Regions from separate parts of the Homo sapiens genome. Here region 1 is linked to region 2. The links come from fine-mapping of genetic effects on gene expression. A gene starts in region 2. The other region holds a variant in brackets. All regions are shown on one strand. Distances are from middle to middle. Region 1 overlaps MYO1H (myosin IH). Region 2 holds the start of KCTD10 (potassium channel tetramerization domain containing 10).

Evidence for each region.
Region 1: its variant is fine-mapped to the expression of KCTD10 in whole blood (TOPMed, PIP above 0.99).

The regions. Positions count from the first base shown.
Region 1 is chr12:109,447,197-109,452,570 of GRCh38, reverse strand. MYO1H (myosin IH) reads right to left here. Exons shown (of 32, transcript NM_001101421.4): 32 at 4,192-5,374. KCTD10 (potassium channel tetramerization domain containing 10) reads left to right here. Exons shown (of 7, transcript NM_031954.5): 7 at 758-3,916. The coding sequence ends at 976. Among named protein-coding and RNA genes, the nearest start is that of KCTD10, 27 kb to the left of the region's middle. The variant G/A (reference allele first, on the strand shown) is at 2,851.
Region 2 is chr12:109,474,647-109,480,020 of GRCh38, reverse strand. It overlaps KCTD10 (potassium channel tetramerization domain containing 10), which reads left to right and starts at 2,721. Exons shown (of 7, transcript NM_031954.5): 1 at 2,721-2,761. The coding sequence starts at 2,759. It overlaps UBE3B (ubiquitin protein ligase E3B), which reads right to left and starts at 2,387. Exons shown (of 28, transcript NM_130466.4): 1 at 1,912-2,387. RefSeq lists enhancers at 2,475-2,564, 3,073-3,808.

The sequences.
Region 1 (5,374 bases), 27 kb after region 2:
GGTAGAGTGTGCCTGCTCCATTTTTCCCAGAACCTCCGAATTCCACCCTGAAAGTGGAGTCTAGTCTGATCAAATGTGTGGGACCTGCTTATGTGGCCCTCTTCCTGTTCATCACACCTTAACCCTGAAGGGCAATGAGCAAACACAATGATTTGCCAAACAGCAGAAGGGCTCATGCCCATTTCGTGGGAGTCCCCAGCTGGACCCTGTACAAAAAACTGCTTTAGAGACTGCTTTAAGGTGTGGAAGGACTTCTGTGCAAGGTTGCAGCTCTGTTAGGAGAAGCATATTAGCACTGACCTAAATGGCCATCCAAGTATGGTTAATTGCATTGTCGTATTTATAATTCCTTGATACAGAATGATCTCTAGGTTAAGTTAGGCACAAGAGGAAGACATGTACAACTCTGTGTGGTGGGCCACCTTGTGTGTTTTTTGAAGTGTGTGAATAAATATGTGTATTACACATATTTACATGCACAGAATCTTTGAGAGGGTAAAATGATGAGAAACTGTACCTTTAAGAAGGGAAACTAGGGGCAGGGAGACCTGTTTCTCTGCATCCCCTTGATTTTCTGTGCATTTAGCACCACATGTAAGTGTTGCCATTGAAAATATCAGTTTATTTAAAAATAATACTGGTGGCCTTCAGCAGAATCCCAGGGGCCTGATTTAGCCTGGCGGCCCTGCTTAAAGTCCAGGTGTTGGCAGAGGGGGTGGGCCATAACTTACCTGCCCTGTATACTGTGGGAACACAGGTGGAGTTTCCCGAAGCCCGGATTTATGAGGAGACCCTGAACATTTTGCTGTATGAGGCCCAGGATGGCCGGGGACCTGACAATGCGCTCCTGGAGGCCACAGGCGGGGCGGCGGGGCGCTCCCACCACCTGGACGAGGACGAGGAGCGGGAGCGGATCGAGCGCGTGCGGAGGATCCACATCAAGCGCCCTGATGACCGGGCCCACCTCCACCAGTGAGCAGGCAAGAGACCGAGCCGCCCTCCTCTCACCGCCCCCACTCCCTGCCGTGCTACACCCAGATCCTGTGCAGGCTGCCGGGCCCCTTCTGCTTCCCTTGGAGCCTGGAGATACTTTTGTAACAAGCCAGATGATTATTTTGGTATTGCTTGACAAGGCAAATTGATTGTCTTGACCCAGGCGTATGACCCCTGTCGTTGAACAAGCTGTGTCTAAGATCTCTACTTTTCATGAGAATCTGAGACTCTTTGGAGCCAGGCTTTCTCGGTTCTCAGAGGAAAAGTATGAATGAGTGTGAAGTGTATGTGAGAACTTTTGTTTGCAATATTTATTTTTGTGGGTGTCGACTTCCTATGTGGGCTTTTTGGGTGACACTCCCTTAAGGGTTCAGTTTGACAATTCTGAGAGTTGTCCTGCAGTTGGAGGCCACCAGAGGTATCTGAGCTCCCTGCTTCCTATTTCATAATCCTCCAGCCCCAGCAGGTCCACTCCTGGTTCCTGTGTGTTTGGCCCGGGCACAATCCCCACTGCTTTGCTAGACGTGCTTTCTGCCATGTGGCTTTGGGCCTAGAGCTTGTTGATAATTGCAGCTTGTGGCAGTGGAAATATGGCTGAATGAGCGTCTAAATCGTTGAGACCAGTGCAACTTTGGGTGCAAGGCTTTGTTTAGGGATCAAGCCTTTTGCCACCTTGGGCTGGTCTTTGGCCTGGTGCTCACTGGGACCCCATATGTCTGCGTAGGAGCAGAACTTTCCATGGCAGTAAGTGTCCAGCTCTGTTTCTGGTTCTTTCCCCAACTCCAGCCCCGTCCAGTTGTTCTCCTGATTGACCCGACTCCACTCCAGGAAGGCCATCTGACCCTGTGACAGGCATAGCTCATAAACTACCCCTCCCTGGGATCCCGCTCCTCTTCAGCCTCCTTCCCCATGAAGCTGGGCTAACTTTCTAAGTCATTTTGCTTAGAAATTCAGTGTGGCCCATACCCTTTGTCCTCCCAGCCTGGCATCCAGGCAGGGACACCCTCACACCACCAGCCCCAGGGAGCTTCCCTGCTATAAACACAGACCCCCTTGTCTTTGCCTCTGATTTTTACACAGTGTAGAGTGGCCAGCAGTGAACAGGTTGAGGATGTGCGGGTAGATAGATAACTTTGGGTCTGGTTTGTGTCTGTGTTCATGTTTGTTTAAGGGATATGTGTGACTGTGGGTGGGGACGTGTGCTTGTGGGGCACAGGTGGCGGCCCCTGCTGGAGCCCGGCTGGGCGCAGCGCCTATGTAGGACGGGTGTTCTCAGTGACCTACCTCCCAGGCTCCTCTGCACCTGCAAAGGAACAGGAGTGAGTCGTGACTGACAGGGGTGGTTGAGACTAGACTAGGTAGAGTAGTTACCAGGAGATGTGAATGTGCGTCAGGTGATGGATGGGTTTGTCAAGGGAATCGTTACCGTTTTATACCAAAGGTATTAACATGGGCAGCCTTTGACACATGTATTCCAAAAACGAGTTTATATTTTCAAACGGTTTTTACAGCTTAGACTTTGTACTTACTGCCCTGCCTGTGACAGTTGTATGCCTTCATTTTGTATCCAACAGCAAAGTCTACAATAAAACTTTAAAACAATCATGACTGAATGTCAAAATCGTGTATTGGGCAGATGCTTTTTAAACTGTCGTGTGAGAAACTTTTATATTAGGCCATTTGGATTTTATTAAGTGCTAAGGAAAGAGGGCTTACAAAATGTTTCGTAAATATTTTATACTGTTTAAGTGTTAAACACCAACCCTGTCTTTCTTTTGGGTTGAGCTTTTTTAGAAAGTCGAAGTGAATGTTGGCCAGGAAAATGGAAAAGCCATTGTATAAATTTTTTTTTGAGGC[G/A]GAGTCTTGCTCTATTGGCCAGGCTGGAGTGTAGTGGCACCATCTCCACTTACCACAACTTGTGCCTCCTGGGTTCAAGCGATTCTGCTGCCTCAGCCTCCCGAGTAGCTGGGATTGCAGGTACCCATCAGCCCATGCCCAGCTAATTTTGTATTTTTAGTAGAGATGGGGTTTCACCATGTTGGCCAGGCTGGTCTTGAACTCCTGACCCTGTGATCCGACCACCTTGGCCTCCCAAAGTGCTGGGATTACAGGTGTGAGTCACCACACCTGGCTGCATAGTGTTTTAAATGTTTGTGTGAAGAATGAGTTTGTGGAACAATTTGATTTGCTGTGGCCTCTATGCCTAATGAGCTAGTGTTTCTGGCAGCTCTCTCTACCCAACTTTGCACTTGTAGTTTTGAGTCTTTGTCTCTCTGGAATATGAACAGGTTTATAAAACATTCCATGGTGAACAATTCTGTCGGCTGCATTATAGCCATGAGTGAATAGACAGCATTGGCTGGTCCAAGCTCTGTTATTGAGTATACAAGGAACTGATTTTTCTTATGTTAGCACTAAGGGCAAAAACCAATATTTATAATGTAAGCACTATCCAGGTAAAACACTGGCCCAAGATTTGGTAAAGAGATTTCATTGCAATGTAATAACTACAGTTTTTTACAAATTGGAACAGCTTTGGTGTGTCGTAATCAAGGGTTTTTTTTGTTTGTTTGTTTCAAATAAGCCATCTGATTGTGGTGACTGGGGCCCATGTCCAAGACAATTCCTGGCATATTCTGTCACCCTCCCGTGGGGCGATCACTGTGTGGGGACCCCATTCCCCAGTTAAAGTGTGTCTCTGTACCTTACAACAGCGATTCAGGACCCAAGTGTGAACAACACTCAGCCCGCCCTCTGGAGCGTGTGCTGTCTTTAGGGCCCTACCCAAAGTCACTGTAACAGTTAAGTGTGTCATTAACCTTTCTGTCTCTTTGCGCCATAAAAAAATGCTCAAAGTTTTAGATGTAGCCACTGTATGTTGTACAAACGTTGGCGACATGTAAAATAAAAGTCATAAAATGCTTCTGTTTTCTGGCTCTTTTCAGGCATGCCCGGCATAACCAGGCCCCTAAAATCGGTTTACAACAAAGGCAGGGCCCCCACGTTCTGCCTCAGCCCCTTAAAGTCGCTCCAGGTGGAAGGGAAAAGACAGTCATGTTTCTGTAGTGTTTGTTTGAATTCAAACACCAAAAGGAAGTCTTGGGGTCAAAGGCTGCCTGGCTCATGAAAAAGTGAATCAGCTGGTGTTACCACTGATTTGCTATTATGGGGCAGAGGGCTTCAGTTCACCAAACCCAATCCCTTGACACATGTGAGTTCCATTTATTTAAAGCAAAATTCAAATTTCACAGCTTTAGGAAATTTCCTTTACTTAGTCTCAGACCATGCACAGTAAGTCATCGATAGGTTCTTGGAAGCTGAGACTTGAAGCAAAACCATGAGGCTAATGGATGTAAACAAGAGTTAAATTCCTACAGCATGTTGCTGGGCACAAAAACATCACCCAATTTCTAAATAAAGACCAAAGCACTTCTCATATTAAACTGTGAAATACATGAGCTACACGTATATTTAATTAAATCAAAAATAAGACCATATTACCTAAGTTTTGGTGAATCGGTAAGTGATGGTGGTCACAGTGGTGGCCGCATACATCAGTAAATAAACGCTTGCAAAGGTGAGATTATACGGAGCCCCTCCCCAGTCACAAGCGTGGCAGGCTCGCTACACGCTTTTGCGCTGTGGCATTTATTGTCCATTTGTGTGCTCATATGCTTTATATACATTTTTATTTTACAATAAAATTTGTATTCATTCGTTCTCCAACCTGCACGTTCAGGGTTGCAGATGGCCAGAGCCCAATCCCAGCAGCTCAGGGCAGAAGGCGGGACCCACCCTGGACAGGATGTCCTCCTCTCACGGGGCTCACGCACCCACACTCACTCAGACTGGGACCGCATAGACACGCCAGTGCACCTGACACACACACCTTGGGGACGTGGGAGGAAACCAGAGCACCCAGAAGAAACCCAGAGACATGGGGAGAACATACAGACTCCACCCAGACAGTGGCCCTGCCCAGGAATCAGATGTCTTATCAACATATAACGAAATGTTATTTGAGAACTTGCTGTACACAGTATTTCATCATGTCTCAGGGCAGCTTGACAGAGGTAGAGAATCTTGCCCACCCTCTAATGACACGTTGGACTGCGCACTGAACATAGATCCTGTCGAGGGTGTTTAGAATTGCGCCTTCGGGTGACCTGGGGTCTGCTTCCAGAAGGTGACATTTTAAATAAGGTGCCATGGGGCAGCTGAGGAGCTGGGATTAGGCTTTGGCCTAACGCCCCTCAGTTTCTTCAGATGTGATCTGTTAGTGCTGCGGGCCTGGTACCTTGAAGAGGTAGCTAACTGGATCCAATCCCCACTTCCCCTGTAGTTTCCTCAGTTGGAGCAAAAATGGCGATGGTAGAGGTCA
Region 2 (5,374 bases):
AGTAACAGATTCAAGCTCCTCAGGACTGCAAAAGAGCAGGGCCCAAGCCACAAGCACAATGATATGCTCCCTCCATGACATGCAGACAGTGCCTCAATGGCAGAGGGTCCATGGAATTAGAAGGGGAAGAGGGAGCCTCTTCCCAAAAGAAAAACAAAGTTGCATGCAAACTGTACCTAAGCACTGTAAGACGATCTTAAAACTTTCACTTCTCCCAGGGGCCCTCCCAGAATAAGAAATTACTCTTATCCCCTTCCTTGAGATTATTATCCCTTCAGCAATGTTATTGGTTGATTTCTGTTCATATCATATAATAGCCTACACTTTACAGTTTTTCTCATCCTTTCCTATATACCTTCTCCACCTGCACAGTGTATACTATAGTTCGTCAATTAATAAAACACACAATCAAGTGTTTATTAAGTACTTATTTTGCTAAATGCCATGGAGAACCAAAGAAAAGGCTGTGCGCAGCAGAAAAAGTCTTGCATCAGAGAAAGCGGGCCTTGGTTCTTTTTAGTACTCCTTCTATCCGACATTTGGCCAAGTTACTTATCCTCTCTAGGCCTCAGTTTCCTTATGTGTAAATCGAGGGTAATAATAGTGTCTATGTCCTAGGGTTGCTGAAAGGATTAAATGCAACATTTATCCTTCTTGTACCTCAATTTAGTCATCACAACATTGTGATTAGGATTAAATGGGAAAATATTAATATAGGATATCTAAAAGCATGTAGCATGTAAGTGAGCTTTATTGTATTGTCCTTAAGAAGCTTGCAATCTAGTTAGGGAAACAAGAATCATATAGGTAGAAAGATTAGAAAATAAGAGGTTGGTGATAACCAAGATCATTTAAAAAAGTAAATGAGTGCCCATTATGTGTCAAGTCCTTTATAAGTGATCTCATCTAATAAGGAGAGGAGTCCTATGAGAAGATCATTCATGATCTCATCTACTCCAGTCTAGACCATTAGTATGTGGCAGAGTCAAGGCTGTAATAACTAAGAGGCAGGATTCAGACTCTTGTCTTACCTCTATATTTCCAAAGCTGAAGCATCATAAATACCAACTGCTGACTAAGCCAAGAGGATTGTCCCTGTGCAGTAGGAAAAGCTGGGCCACCAGGTTTAATGACCACCACCACTTGTTCTGGGCAGACGGTGTATCAGACACTGCACAGATTATTTAACCAACTTGTCTTTTCAACAGCTCTATCAGTTCTCGATAATCTTTGTTTTTTTGAGACGGAGTCTCACTTTGTTGCCCAGGCTGGAGTGCAGCGGCGCGAACTCTGCTCACTGCAACCTCCGCCTCCCAGGTTCAAGTGATTCTCCTGCTTCAGCCTCCCAAGTCGCTGGGATTAAAGGCGCCCGCCACCACGCCCGGCTAATTTTTGTATTTTTAGTAGAGATGCGGTTTCACCATGTTGGCCACGCTGGTCTTGAACTTCTGACCTCAGGTGATCCGCCCGCCTCGGCCTCCCAAAGTGCTAGGATTACAGGCGTGAGCCACCGTGGCCAGCCTCAATAATCTAATTTTTATTTAAAGAATAGGAAACACGACTTAAAGAGACTATTCATATTAACAGCTACTATTTATTGAAAGCTACAGCCTATCTAAGGTGGATGCTTTTGAATCTGAATCCATGTATATCCAAAACAGTTATTTATCACTAAGTAAAACAAACAAGATCCAGGGCTCCCCCGTTCACAGAATGGCCAAGCAAAGAGAAGTTGAGAGTGCAAGATTGCCTGTGGGGGCTAAGCTGGAGTTAAATTACGATCAAGTTTTTCTTTATTCAGAACTAGGTGTCAGGCACGGTACTAAAACGTATTCACACCCTCTGTGAAACCTGCTAATTACTCCATTTACACAGAAGGAAACTGAGGCTCAGAGAGGTGAGGGAACTCACCCAAGGTCACACAGCGAGCGAACAGTATTCGAACTCCAGTTTAGGTGAGTCCTGGGGCCCAGAGTCTTTCCTCGGCATCAACAACCACAGGAACAAATCACCCAGCATTAGTCCGTTTATAAAGGCCTACCGTCCCCAAAGTGAAAAGAGGTGGAAAGGGCCGCGGAAAGAGCCCCTGGAGCACACACGCCAGATCCCAGCACTTGTTCCTCCGACCTGGCCAGGCAGGGACTGTGCCCTAGAGCCAACTCCCTCAAAGTCCCCAGCCCCACCACTCGGAGGACTGACGACCCAGTTCTCCCGCAGGCCGGACCGCAGGCCCTACCGGCCTACCCGCAGGCCGACCTTTATTCGCCGGAGGTCCCCGCACTTGGGGTCGGGGCCGCAGCTGCCACTGTCTCAGCCCAAAACACCCGAGTTCTGCCAGACCCGGGGCAGCAGCCGACGCACTACCGCCATCTTGCCCCGCGGTGTTCGCTTTCAGAACCCCGCCAGGAAGCAAGCATCCAGTTCCGGAAAATGACAGTTCCGCAGAGCTTCTTCGCCCGGGAAGGAAAACTTCCCCACACCTTGCCTCCCCTCTGGCAGCTGAAATAGCGGAGGTGGGATAAATGCCCTCCCCAGCCGAGAAAAGCTGGAACCCACTCCGGCCGGGGAGGCTGGAAAGAAAACTGGCCCCTAGGCGCACAACGGACGGCTTAAGACGTTGCCCTCTGCGGGGCGGAAGTGGGGTGCGGACAGCGGAAGTTATCGCTCCGGCCCCGCCTCCGCCCCCGGCTGGCGTGAGCTGGGTGTTTCCTGCCTCTCTCAGTCCGGGTTTGGAGACTCCTGCGTCCTCCGACTTTTCATGGTAGGGAGGGCGGTGCCCATGGACTAGGGGTTGAGGGCGGCCGAGGGAGCTGGGCAGCAGCAGAGTATAAGAAGGGACCGAGAGGAGGGGGTGTGATGAGGGGCAGTCACGATAGTGGAGAGGCATTTGGGGGATTGGTTAGGGGAAAGGCCCGGGGTGGGGGAAGGGCTTTGGGTGGAGAATTAGGGGCGGGGGTGGTGGTAGGGAGGCTCCCTGGCGGTTAGGAATCCGGGAAGCACATTTGGGCTTGCGGAGTAGATACGTGTGTGCGTGAGGAAGGGGTGTCTCCAAGTGAGTCCTGAGTGCTGGTTGGAGATGGGAGTTGGTGATTGCGAGGAGAACAAAGAGATATCAATTGAAAACGGACATTTGGGGGTGGAAAATGAGGATTTGGAGGATTATGAAGGAGAATGAATGGGCAGGTTATGAGAAGGTGAGGTAGGATTCCTTGGGGCGGAGCGTTTGGCGTTTTGGAGGTTGTGGCTGGAGTCGCTGAGTTTCCAGGAAGTGGGGAAGGGGCTCCCAGGTGCGTCTGAACACACGGCCCAGTGAGGGAAAGAAATCGAGAGAGCCCAGCAGGCTGATGTGCGTTCAGTGCTTGGAATCCTGGGGAGAGATGCCAGGGGCCTGAGGTTAGGATACCTGCGCCACGGAGTTCAGTGCCTCAGCTGGCGCCTGGGTACCTATCTGTAACTTCCATTGAGGCCAGAGGTGACCACGCCTAAGGAGCGGAGGATGTTTCAAGATCTGTCTCTCAGCTGTGGGGTTTGTCTGCTTGGGATCCTCAAGGGTCTGTTCCCTGAGTAGCTCATTGTCCCTGGGTAGAGATGACCAAAGATTGGCCCAGATCTTCTTTCTACTTGCTTGCTTGTTTGTCACGTCCCTGGAAAGTGCAGTCTTAAGGGAAAATCAGTCCCAGTGACGCTGCTGAAGAAAAGTCAGTTATCCTGTAGCTGACGTTGACTAGTCCGCTCCATTTTGTGCAAAATAAGGACCAGCGGATGGGAAGAAGGCAGCATAAACCAGTGGTTCTCAAACTCTGGTCCCACCAGCAGCAACACCTGGTAACTTATTCAAAATGGCTGAAATTTCAAGCCCTGTCAGAGACTACTGAATCAGACATTCTTGGGGTGGAGCCCATCTATCGGTTTTAACAAGCCCTGCAAGGGATTAGACTAATGATTTCTTGATTTGGACTGTGTAATGAAAGGGGCAAAGGAGTTGGGAGTCAGAGGGCTCTTATAGGTGTGATTCCTAGTTTTCTCCCCAAAAAAGTGGGGTTGATGATAAACATCTTTCTCACTAGAACATTGAGAGAAATAGACCAAGAGTTTGTGTATTAAACACAGGGAGAGAATGTCATTTGATGGAAGTTGCAATTGGCGGTAGCTGTCTTATAAGCAAATTTTGGATGTAAAATGCTGCAATTATGTGACTTAGTTTAGTTGAAATGTAACAGCAGACTTTTCTGAGTTGTAGAAATGCCCTCAGTTTGGGAAGGTTTTATACAAGCCTCAATACAGTGTTTCTTAAACTTCTTTGCTGTAGGAATCCCCTGAGGTGATGCTTTGCCTCACATCCCTGGCAACTCTTAGATAAAGCTGGTTAAATACCTTAGCTAGGTGGCAGTAAGCCCTGGTCCCACATCCGAATCCCCCAAAGAGCTTTTTAAACACTAGTGACTGATCAGCCACCCCTCCGCATCTCTGAGATACTGATTAATTGATCTGGGGTGTAGCCCAGGCAAGCACAGGTGTGTGTGAGTTTGTTTTTGTTTTTTGGAGACAGGGTCTTGCTCTGTCGCCCAGGCTGGAGAGTGCACTGGTATTATCTTGGCTCACTAAAGCCTCACCTTCCCTGCCTCAAGCAGTCCTCCCACCGCAGTCTCCCGAGTAGCTGGGACTACAGGTGTGTGCCACCATGACCGGTTAATTTTTTTTTTTAATTTTTTTGTGGAGATTAGGTCTTATGTTGCTCAGGCTGGTCTCGAATTCCTGGGCTCAAGCAATCCTCCCGCCTCAGCCTCCCAAAGTGCTGGGATAATGGGTGTGAGCCACTGTGCCTGGCCTGGCATCATGTTTTTTAAGCACACGCAGGTGATTCTAGTAGCCAGGGTTGGGAACCACTGATCCCAATGTTTGAGACGCCCAAAGGAAACTACACAAAGGACTAGGTGCCAAATGCTTTAACATTCATTCTCTGAGGGTTTTGAAGATTATGGCTTTAACACTCCATTTTACAAGTTAGAAAACTGAGACTTGGGTTAAATTGCTTGAATTTCACGAAGGAAATGGTGGAACTGGATTGCAATCCAGGTTTGCCGAGACTATCCCGTTTTCCTTAACACACACACAGGCACACAAGACTTCTACAGAGAAGCATATAGAAAACGTGGGGTCAGGGATTTGGTGCGTTTTTTCCTACTGTACTTGCCTGAGCCTCCTTTTCAGTCGATGATTTTCCCCCTTCAGCTGATTTTTGTATTTTCATGCATGCATACAGTTGCTTCCTCCCTGTGGCTCTGAAGCTGTGAAGTGGGGGCTGGCTTTGGTTTATGGTGTTTTGGTTTGTTTTTAATGTGTCAGGTCAGGAATTCACTGGGCCAAGACCGTG